Homo sapiens: one gene and its partners. The protein of the gene in region 3 purifies or fractionates together with the protein of the main gene of each other region. This does not show direct contact. Each region holds a gene or a part of one and is shown on either strand. Other genes may lie near its edges. The genes, in order: RNASE4, COLGALT1 and COL6A2.

The links.
Region 1: the proteins of COL6A2 (region 3) and RNASE4 purify together in Homo sapiens (co-immunoprecipitation; one large-scale study listed by IntAct). This does not show direct contact.
Region 2: the proteins of COL6A2 (region 3) and COLGALT1 purify together in Homo sapiens (affinity purification with mass spectrometry; one large-scale study listed by BioGRID and IntAct). This does not show direct contact.

What each region holds. Positions count from the first base shown.
Region 1 is NC_000014.9:20,687,543-20,691,190, reverse strand, and holds part of RNASE4 (ribonuclease 4 precursor), read right to left. Parts: intron 2,428-3,648; exon of another isoform or gene 2,317-2,427; intron 1-2,316.
Region 2 is NC_000019.10:17,558,530-17,562,177, reverse strand, and holds part of COLGALT1 (procollagen galactosyltransferase 1 precursor), read right to left. Parts: intron 2,868-3,648; coding exon 2,757-2,867; intron 1,831-2,756; coding exon 1,713-1,830; intron 1-1,712. UniProt on the Homo sapiens protein: Beta-galactosyltransferase that transfers beta-galactose to hydroxylysine residues of type I collagen. By acting on collagen glycosylation, facilitates the formation of collagen triple helix. Also involved in the biosynthesis of collagen type IV.
Region 3 is NC_000021.9:46,128,964-46,132,711, forward strand, and holds part of COL6A2 (collagen alpha-2(VI) chain isoform 2C2 precursor), read left to right. Parts: exon of another isoform or gene 1-232; coding exon of another isoform or gene 233-528; exon of another isoform or gene 529-838; intron 839-2,990; coding exon 2,991-3,589; 3' UTR 3,590-3,748. UniProt on the Homo sapiens protein: Collagen VI acts as a cell-binding protein.

The DNA of each region.
Region 1 (3,648 bases), on a different chromosome or scaffold from region 3:
TACTAATGTCTTCTCTAGGAAATACCGTACTTGCAGGAGGTGCCAATGCTGTATAACTTGTGGGGATATTGCTGTTCACAGAAGGGAGTATGAGCTGGTGAACCTGTTTAGAATCTCTGTCCAAACTCGCTCTGCATTAGATATTAAGACCAAGGACACCTCATTAGATATAAGTGCCAAAGTAAAAGCCACAAAGTTCAGAATCTACCCATAAGGATATCACAAAATAAAGACCGACCTGTTGTCAGGTTTCACGGGTGCCATTTCCAAACATGCCATTACCCACGTGATCGTGGATGAACAATGAAGTATTTACTTGTTAGTGTTTCTTACTGGTGTATATTCCACAGAACTCATATTATTCACCTTGAATCAACATGCTTGCCTTATTATAACCCTTAATATTTTTTAAGTAATTGACTTCATTTTTCTCTCCAGGCCTAGGTTTGTTCATCAAGAAAATAAAAGAGTTGCTAGCTCTAAAAATCTGAAGTTTCATGGTTCTCATTAAACATAATAGAGGCTTTGCTAGTTTCAATAGCAAAGGTCCAGTGACCCTCAGTTACAGAGACAAATTTTGTATAAGTTTAGTTGGGGGCCTGTAATCTTGATTCCCTAAGACATCCAGGAACCAAATCTCAGCAAGCGTACACCAAAACCACCAATATCTAACATCTGCTCCCTCACTCAAAACTTTCTCAATATATTCAACTCTAAATTCCTCAAAAAGCAAGGTAAAATGGAATTGGGAGAAAACCAGTAAGAGACAGATCGTTTGTGGTGTAAAAGTGAATCTGCCTAAGCCAAGGGTGCAAAGCCTCACATCTGGTGGCAAAAGTCCTATAGATATATCCTTCTGTACCCAAACACGTAACTGTCTGTCAGCTTTTTGTCAGTGGAATTAGTCCCAGCTGTTCTCTGTCCTTTTTTTCTTTTCTTTTCTTTTTTTTTTTTTTTTTTTTTTTTTTTGAGACGGAGTCTCGCTCTGTCGCCCAGGCCGGACTGCGGACTGCAGTGGCGCAATCTCGGCTCACTGCAAGCTCCGCCTCCCGGGTTCACGCCATTCTCCTGCCTCAGCCTCCCGAGTAGCTGGGACTACAGGCGCCCGCCACCGCGCCCGGCTAATTTTTTGTATTTTTAGTAGAGACGGGGTTTCACCTTGTTAGCCAGGATGGTCTCGATCTCCTGACCTCATGATCCACCCGCCTCGGCCTCCCAAAGTGCTGGGATTACAGGCGTGAGCCACCGCGCCCGGCCTGTTTTTTTTTTTTTTTTGAGACAGAGTCTTGTTCTATCGCCCAGGCTAGATCGCAGTGGTGCTATCTTGGCTCACTGCAACCTCCACCTCCCAGGTTCAGGCAATTCTCCTGCCTCAGCCTCCCAAGTAGCTGGGATTACAGGCGGCCACCACCACGCTTGGCTAATTTTGTGTATTTGGTAGAGACGGGGTTTCGCCATGTCGGCCAGGCTGGTCTCGAACTCCTGACCTCAGTTGATCCGGCTACCTCGGCTTCCCAAAGTGCGGGGATTACAGGTGTGAGCCACCACACCTGGCCCCAACTGTTCTTTAGAGTAACTTTATCTTCTGTATCAAATGAATCTGTTAGTATTCACAAGAATTATTCTCTCCCTCTCCCCACAGGCAATGTTCAGTATTCAAAAGATTCATCAAATTTTACACACCAGGGAGTTAACTTGACAGTTTATGATGAGTAACTATAGTTATCATTTTCATCAATGTGGCTTCACACTTTTATACATCCTAGGGCAAAATCCCCCAAAGTAAGAGCCTAACACCCAAGGCATATTCATCCCTTTATTGCTTTTCCTTCCTTCTTCCCTTCAACCTGCCAGTGAGCCTTCTTTTGATCTTGGGATGTGTTCCACTTTGTTTGAAAGAGCATCCAAAACTTTTCTAAGAAGAGAAATTAGCAGGGAAGGTTAGAAGGAAACAATGCTAAAAACATACTGTTTCTTTCCTTGTTAAGCCACGTGTAATGCCTGTAACAGGGGTGGACGACGGGGGAGGACTCCCGATGGCCTTCAGCAAATGGCTCCCCCAGGCCTTTGGGGATTTTATCACAATTTAGAAATCCCTCCTAAACTTCCACTTCCTCCCAGTCTCACTAATTTCTCTTTATCCACACATAGGCCATCCCAAAAGAAACCTGTTTTCATTTTAAACTTTAGAATCTGATCCATTTTCTTTTTAATTCATGAGCTTGAGCCTGGAGGCTTTAAAGGGAGGAAAATGGTTTCATTAAAATGGATGGATGGCTAGAAATAATATATAAAACAAATTGAACAATAGTTTACCCAGGAGGAAGAATCTTACAAAAATCTGGCAGTTTCCCTTCAACGGGAGATGGGTTCCAGCTGTTTGTTCCTGGAGATGGGTTCCAGTTGTGTGAACCTGGAGGCCTCTCCAGGTTCTGATTATATAGTGTTCCTAATATATAGTGTCCCAGTCCTGGCAGGGACATGAAAACCAAGGACACTGCTCTTGAACAAACGAGGAGGGTCATTCACCTTTTCGCTGGGCATGATTGGGTTAGATATTAACCCACCTGAATGGATTAGAGATTTGTTCTGGAAGACAAAGTTTGAGAAACATGGCCTTCTGTCCAAAAGTTGCCCTTTTCTGCTGTCTGTGGTGCTTACTCTTGTTCATGGCAGGACTGAGGTTTCCCTATTCACACATAATAGTCTGGATCCATAAGATAGCATCTCTGATCTCCCTGGGCCAACTCCAAGAACTGCCTTGGAAGATGTCACAGAGTAAGATATGGTCTTCCAGTAGGATGCTTTTCCACTGTACTATTTATCATTTATCATATCACATCCTATTTATCGTATCACATCATTTGGTTTCATGAACGGATGCTAAGCACGTTATTCCATCGATTTCATACAGCCAGGAAAGCACTTCCAGAGAAGGTTGTGTGACAGCTATTAGTACACTGCCCCTCCCCCTACACTCAACTTCTCAGCTTCTAACCCCCAGAAGCAGGCTTGCCATGTTTCCTGGGTTTCTCCTTCTTCCATCTTTACCTGTCCACAAGAGACTAACCCTGAACATTCAATCTTCTGATCCTTGTAATGTAGTTGCAAAATTGCTTATCTCCATCATCAAAGCAGGGCTGTAGATCCATTGCTTGCGTAAAAACAGTGGGCCAAAGGTCACCAGGATCACCTTATAGATCTCATAGTTTCCAATATCAGACAGCAGCAGGGTACCAACTGTTTCACAGACCCCCAGCATTTGCCCACAGTGGTGTTGGATCTAGGACAGTGTTATCTTTTTAAAAATCCTCAATCCTCTGTTGTCACCCACCTAGCTGCCAAGTATTCAGTCTGGCTGCACTTGAGAAGGTGTCAAGAAAAGACAGGCTGCCTGCTAGTAAAACAAATGCACTTGAAATCACAATAATTATAATATTCAGTGCAATCTTTCATTTTGTGAAGCTCTCACATACATGACTACATTCAACCAACACCAGGACTGTGTGAGGTAGGCATTATGTAAATATGCTCTGCTCATGAGGAAACTCCAAGAACAAACAGCAGATGAATGGTGGAGTCAGACTTTGAACCCTTCATAAGCAAGGAGAAAACTGACCTGTCTTTCCAGGCTTAGCTCAAGCAACA
Region 2 (3,648 bases), on a different chromosome or scaffold from region 3:
GAGATGGGCTGGATGTGGTGGCTCACACCTATAATCCCAGCACTTTGGGAGGCCGAGGCAGCTGGATCACCTGAGGTCAGGACTTTAGAGACCAGCCTGGCCAACATGGCGAAACCCCGTCTCTACTAAAATTACAAAAATTAGCCAGGCATGATGGCGGGGGCCTGTAATCCCAGCTACCCAGGAGGCTGAGGCAGAAGAATTGCTTGAACCCAGGAGGAGGAGGCTGCAGTGAGCCGAGATTGTGCCACTGCACTCCAACCTGGGCAACAGAGACTCTGTCTCAAAAAACAAGAAAAAAGAAAATCAGGAGAATATAGAAAAGTATGAAGGCTGAAATAACATTTGGGGTTGATCATAGAAAACTGTGTAATGGGTTCAATGTATATTATTTAGGGGATGGACGCCCCAAAATCTCTGACTTCACCACTTCACAATCTATGCATGTAACAGAATTACACTTGTGCTCCATAAGTTTATACAAATTAAAAAATAATAGTAATATTCAACCTATAAGTCTGTTTTTTTTTTTTTTTTTTTTTTTTTGAGACAGAGTCTCATACTGTGGCCCAGGTTGGAGTGCAGTGGCGTGATCTTGGCTCGAGAAAAAAATAAAAAGACTCAACTGTTCCCTTCCCCATGAGACAATGTCCCCACAGGAGGAGGAAGTGCAAGTCAGGCCTCAGCAATTCAATGTGGCCACCACCCCCCAGCCCCTGACCCCTTCCTCCTGCTTCTTGGAAGTGACCCAAAGGTTTGGCCATTACATATGATGGTGATAAAAACAGACGTGACACGGCCAGGCACGGTGGCCCATGCCTGTAATCCCAGCACTTTGGGAGGCCGAGGCAGGAAGATCACTTGAGCCCAGGGGTTGGAGACCAGCCTGGGCAACATAGCAAGACCCCGTCTCTACAAAAATATTTTTTATTTGTTATTTTTTAAAAATATTTATTTATGTATTTATTTATGAGATGGAGTCTCACTGTGTCGCCCAGTGACTGGAGTGCAGTGGCACGATCTCGGCTCACTGCAACCTCTGCCTCCTAGGTTCAAGAAATCCTCCTGCCTCAGCCTCCCAGGTAGCCGGGATTACAGGCACCTGCCACCACGCCCGGCTAATTTTTGTATTTTTAGTAGAGATGGAGTCTCACCATATTGACCAGGCTGGTCTCGACCTCCTGACCTCAAGTGATCCACCCGCCTTGGCCTCCTAAAGTGCTGGGATTATAGGCATGAGCCACCATGCCTGGCTTCCACAAAAATAAAAATAAAAAATTAGCCGGGCGTGGTGGTGGGTGCCTGTGGTCCCAGCTACTCAGGAGGCTGTGGCACGGGAATCGCTTGAACCCAGGAGGCAGAGGTTGCAGTGAGCCGATATTGCGGCACTTCACTCCAGCCTGGGCACCAGAGTGAGTCTCTGTCTCAAAAAAATAAAAAAATAAAAATGGACTTGACCCAAGTGTCCAAACACAGGGGACAACTGGGGACAGAAAAGCCCATTCATTCCTAGTGCTGAGGATCAAATGAATCCCAGCTCCTCCTCCACTGACCAACCATATCACCTCAAGCAACTCATCTCCCCTCTCTAAGCCTCAGTTTACCCTTCTGCAAAACAACATTAAGGATGGTCCTGGCATCCTGCTGCTCCGCCTTCCCTGGGGATACCCAGACCTGCCTGTGATCCATATCCGGCCGGCTGAGAAACTTACCAGGATGTAATCAGCCCACATGTCTCGAGCTGATTTCAGGGCTGCCTGGCGCAACTTCATGACATGCTCGTAGCGTGAGTCAGACCAGTGTTTCGGGCCTTCCTCGTCCGGGTAGGACCTATGGGGAGGCAGCTGTGATGTGGACATCACAAGGCACTATCAAAGCCCAGCGAGGGCCTGAGCTGCCTTCGGGGTACTCAGAGAGAGCTTCCTGGAGGAGGGGACGTGTAAGCTGATCTGAGGGATGGGAAAAAGTAAACGACGAGGAAAGAGAAGTGGGGAGAATGTTCCTGGCCGGAGGTACAGCCTGTGCAAAGGCCTGGAGGGAAGAAAGCCCGAGGCACACTGGAGGGAAGGAAGGAAGGAAGCTCAGTGGGGTCCAGTGCAGTGGCCCACGCCTGCGATCCCAGCACTTTGGGAGGCAGAGGTGGGAGGATCGCTTGAGGCCAGCACTTTGAGACCAGCCTGGGCAACACAGTGAGACCCTATCTCTACAAAAAATACAAAAACATTAGCTAGGCATGGTTACATGTGCCTGTAGTCCCAGCTACTCAGGAGGCTGAGGCGGGAGGATGGCTTGAGCCCAGGAGTTAAAGGCTGCAGTAAGCTGTGTTCACTCCACTGCACTCCAGCCTGGGTGAGGGAGTGAGACCCTGTCTCAAAAAAAAAACAAAAACCCAGAAAGGAACTGGGTGGGGGCAGGGAGTCCATGCTGCCCAGGGCTTTAGGGAGTAGATAAACAGCAAAGCCAGTGCTGGGACCAAGACTGAGTCAGTGAGCCAGGGAACAAAGCAGTGGGCGTCCCCAGAAGAAAAAGGGAGTGAAAGAATTCTAGGTACAGGGAACGGCTTGGGCAAAGGTCTGAGAAGAGGATTATGGCCTATTTGTAAAGCTGAGGGAGGCTCAGAGTAGCTTAATGCTGCCTGGCTGGGCTGGAGGCAGGGACTGAGGGCCTGTAATTGTTCTGGGGCAATGGGGAGCCATAGAGGGTGTGTGAGCAGAGGCAAAGCCCAATCAGACTAGGAGCAGGGGAAAGATGCTCACCTGGGCTCCTCTGCTGGCCGCCACTCCACGGAATGGTACAAACTCTTCACGGCCACCAGCCACTCCCGCAGCACAGTTGACGTGTTATCCATGTTGTGGTCCGTAGCCACCCTGCAGGGAGAGGGGACAGGCAGCGTACTTGGGGAGACTGAGGCAGGACCAGGCAGCAGTGAGGCAAGTCAAGGACCACCATCCCCAACTGGCCTCCCACCAGCTATGTATCCCTGGACAGGACACTTCTCCCTTTCCTTTGTTTTTTTTTGAGACAGAGTCTCGCTCTGTTGCCCAGGCTGGAGTGCAGTGGCGCGATCTCGGCTCACTGCAAGCTCCGCCTCCCGGGTTCACGCCTTCTCCTGTCTCAGCCTCCCAAGTAGCTGGGACTACAGGCGCCCGCCACCACACCCGGCTAATTTTTTTGTATTTTTAGTAGAGACGGGGTTTCACCATGTTGGCCAGGCTGGTCTCGATCTCCTGACCTCGTGATCCGCCCACCTTGGCCTCCCAAAGTGCTGGACTTAACAAGCGTGAGCCACCGCGCCCGGCCCATTTCTCCCTTTCCATGTCAGTTTCCTCATCTGTAACATGGGGGTGGGAACAGGACCCAGTTTACTGGGAAGTGGAAGGATTAAACAAGCTGATTTTGGAAAGACCCATTAGTGATTGGCTGTTTTATTACTGAGCATCTAAGATCTTGCAAACCACATTCACTAACAAATATGTGTCACTTAATTTTTTTTTTCTTTTGAGACAGAGTCTTGCTCTGTCACCCAGGCTAGAGTGCAGTGGCACAATCTTGGTTCACTGCAATCTCCGCCTACCAGGTCCAAGCAATTCTCCTGCCTCAGCCTCCCGAGTAGCTGGGATTACAGGTGCCCACCACCATGCCCAGCTA
Region 3 (3,748 bases):
TGCCACCGTGCGGGTCTCCTAGCTCCCTGCCAGCTTCCTGTCCCTGTGCTCACTGCCCCCACGCCTCCTGCCAAGGCCGAGCCACACACCCGCTCCACCTGCATTTCCTCTACCGACTCGCCAGCCCAAATGCCGCTCTTCACTCTGGCCTCGCTGAGCGGCTGCCCGAGGAGGAGCTCTAGGCCGACGCCCACCGCAGGCCTTACAGTCTTCTCTGGACGCTCCCTTGCAGATGCACCGTGGCCTGGCGGCGAGCCCCCGGTCACCTTCCTCCGCACGGAAGAGGGGCCGGACGCCACCTTCCCCAGGACCATTCCCCTGATCCAACAGTTGCTAAACGCCACGGAGCTCACGCAGGACCCGGCCGCCTACTCCCAGCTGGTGGCCGTGCTGGTCTACACCGCCGAGCGGGCCAAGTTCGCCACCGGGGTAGAGCGGCAGGACTGGATGGAGCTGTTCATTGACACCTTTAAGCTGGTGCACAGGGACATCGTGGGGGACCCCGAGACCGCGCTGGCCCTCTGCTAAAGCCCGGGCACCCGCCCAGCCGGGCTGGGCCCTCCCTGCCACACTAGCTTCCCAGGGCTGCCCCCGACAGGCTGGCTCTCAGTGGAGGCCAGAGATCTGGAATCGGGGTCAGCGGGGCTACAGTCCTTCCAGGGGCTCTGGGGCAGCTCCCAGCCTCTTCCCATGCTGGTGGCCACCGTGTCCCTTGCTGCGGCTGCATCTTCCAGTCTCTCCTCCGTCTTCCTGTGGCCGCTCTCTTTATAAGAACCCTGGTCATTGAATTTAAGGCCCACCCCAAGTCCAGAATGACCTCGCAAGACCCTTAACTCACTCCCGTCTGCAGAGTCCTTCTTTGCTGCATCAGGTCACCCTCACAGGCTCCAGGGTTTGGGTGTGGAAGTCTTTGGAGGCCCTTACTTAGCGGCCCAGCTGGGCTGCCGTGCGTCTGGGATGGGGCTGAGGGAGGGTGCTGCCCAGGTGCTGGAGGATGTTCCAGCACCAGGTTCCAGCGGAGCCTCGGAAACAGGCCCCAGAGGCTGGTGAGCCTCGCTGGGTGTGGGCACTAATCCCGTGCATGGTGACTCGTGGGCGCTCACGGCCCACCTGGTGGCAGGTGAAGGCTTCCGGTTGGGCAGCAGATAGTCCTGGGGGAAGCTGGCAGTCCTGGCACCATGACGTATCTGGGCTGGTGTCATGCACAGTAGGGCGAATGGCCACAGCTGCCTGCCAGCAGCCCTGATCCCGGGGTGTCTGCACCCTTCCAGCCCAACCTCTGGGTCTCCAAAAGCACAGTCGGGGGAGCATCCACCAGGCACAACCTCTGCGGTCCTCAGAGGACTGAGCAGAGAATCCCAGGGTCCACAATGTTGGGGAGCGGCAGGGATCACCATCCAAAGGGAGCGGCCCCCACGGCGAGCTGACCCCGACGTTCTGACTGCAGGAGCCCTCATCCAGGCTGGGCTCCTGCCGGGCACGGCTGTGACCATTTCTCAGGGCCAGGTTCTCGTCCCCACACCCACTGCACAGGGCAGGCCAGGCTGGTCTTCCCACTGTGGGGATGAAGGATCCTCCACAGGAGGAGGAGAGCAGAGTCCACAGACATCCCAACAGCCTCAGCCTCCCTGTGCCTGGCCGGCCCCCACAGCTTCCCCGTCTCCTCCAGGCCCCACAGACACTGATGAATGGACAGAGACCCCCAAAACCAGCTGCCCCTTGCATGTCTGTCTCCATATGTTTGGTGACAGCAGTGAAAATGTTATTAGTTTTGAGGGGGTTTGGGAAGCCCAGCGGTACCTGAGGAGTTTCTGGACATTTAAGCCGGTTCCTAGGTGTGGCCTTAACAGGGAGGCTGCCCTTCCTTTCACTGAATGAGCTGCGTCACTCATAAGCTCACTGAGGGAACCCCATCTGCCAGCTCGTGCGTGCTCAGACGGCGTCCATGTCTCAAGCGTTCTGTGAAGGCTGCGGTGCAGCGTGAGGTCACCCTGCTGTGTTCAGAGCTTTGCTCACTGCCTGCGGGGCTGGACCGTTGCACCTCCAGGGCCCCCAGAAACCGAGTTTCGGGTCAGGGTCCTCTGTGTGCATTCCTGGGGGTCCATGTACCAGCTGTGACGACGTCCAGGGGTTGGGCTGAGAAGCAGACACCCTTGGGGAAACTGGCTCTGTCCCTCCCCTCCCCCATCCCAGGAGCTGAGGTCTTGGTGAGGCCACAGGGCCAGGTCCACGCAAGGACTGTCCGTGTCCTGTCCTGTGGTCTCTGGCCCCACGTGACACCCACACGTGTGGTAGGCAGCCTGGCCTGGGTTGTGGCTATGGCCAGGCCCCCAAGCTGTCCCCGATGCCCAGGGCTGGTGACCACCCAGGCAGGTGGGGGCCCCACTTGGTAACAGAGTCATAGGGCAGAACCCACCTGGGCTGCCACAGAAGGTCTGGCTGCCCCTGTGCCCACTGCTCCCCACCATGGCCAATCAGAAGAGTCAGGGGCTCCTGGTCTTTCCGGGAGGGACGTGGCCCAGCCAGCTCTAGGTGTTCTGAGCAGCTCTGGGACCCAGCGATTGAGGGGTCAGGCTGGGGGTGTCAGAGCCAGGGTCCTCCTTAAGTACCTCCCACACTACACAGACAGTGGCCCTTTTGTGGGCAGCAAATTCTTGAGCCATGAAAGGATGCTTTGGGCCCCTTCCCTCCCAGGAGGGCAGCCTGTGCAGGGATGGTGCTCAGCAGGTGGACAGGGCCTGGGGCCTGTGTCAGGGTCTCAGGCCTGGGAGCACCAGCAGAGGAGATGGCGGCTCCCAGCAGTGCCGCCTGAAAGTGTCTTGGGCTAAGGACCCACACCCAGGGCTGCCCTGCAGAAACGCCCCCGCAGAGCCCAGTGGTCTGTGAGGTTGCAGGCAGGGTGCGAATGGAAGGGCACAGGTGCGGGGCTGGCACCTGCCCGGTCCTGCCCACCTCCCCTCCGCCCAGCCCGCACCTGCGTCTCCCCACAGAGCTGTCCGTGGCACAGTGCACGCAGCGGCCCGTGGACATCGTCTTCCTGCTGGACGGCTCCGAGCGGCTGGGTGAGCAGAACTTCCACAAGGCCCGGCGCTTCGTGGAGCAGGTGGCGCGGCGGCTGACGCTGGCCCGGAGGGACGACGACCCTCTCAACGCACGCGTGGCGCTGCTGCAGTTTGGTGGCCCCGGCGAGCAGCAGGTGGCCTTCCCGCTGAGCCACAACCTCACGGCCATCCACGAGGCGCTGGAGACCACACAATACCTGAACTCCTTCTCGCACGTGGGCGCAGGCGTGGTGCACGCCATCAATGCCATCGTGCGCAGCCCGCGTGGCGGGGCCCGGAGGCACGCAGAGCTGTCCTTCGTGTTCCTCACGGACGGCGTCACGGGCAACGACAGTCTGCACGAGTCGGCGCACTCCATGCGCAAGCAGAACGTGGTACCCACCGTGCTGGCCTTGGGCAGCGACGTGGACATGGACGTGCTCACCACGCTCAGCCTGGGTGACCGCGCCGCCGTGTTCCACGAGAAGGACTATGACAGCCTGGCGCAACCCGGCTTCTTCGACCGCTTCATCCGCTGGATCTGCTAGCGCCGCCGCCCGGGCCCCGCAGTCGAGGGTCGTGAGCCCACCCCGTCCATGGTGCTAAGCGGGCCCGGGTCCCACACGGCCAGCACCGCTGCTCACTCGGACGACGCCCTGGGCCTGCACCTCTCCAGCTCCTCCCACGGGGTCCCCGTAGCCCCGGCC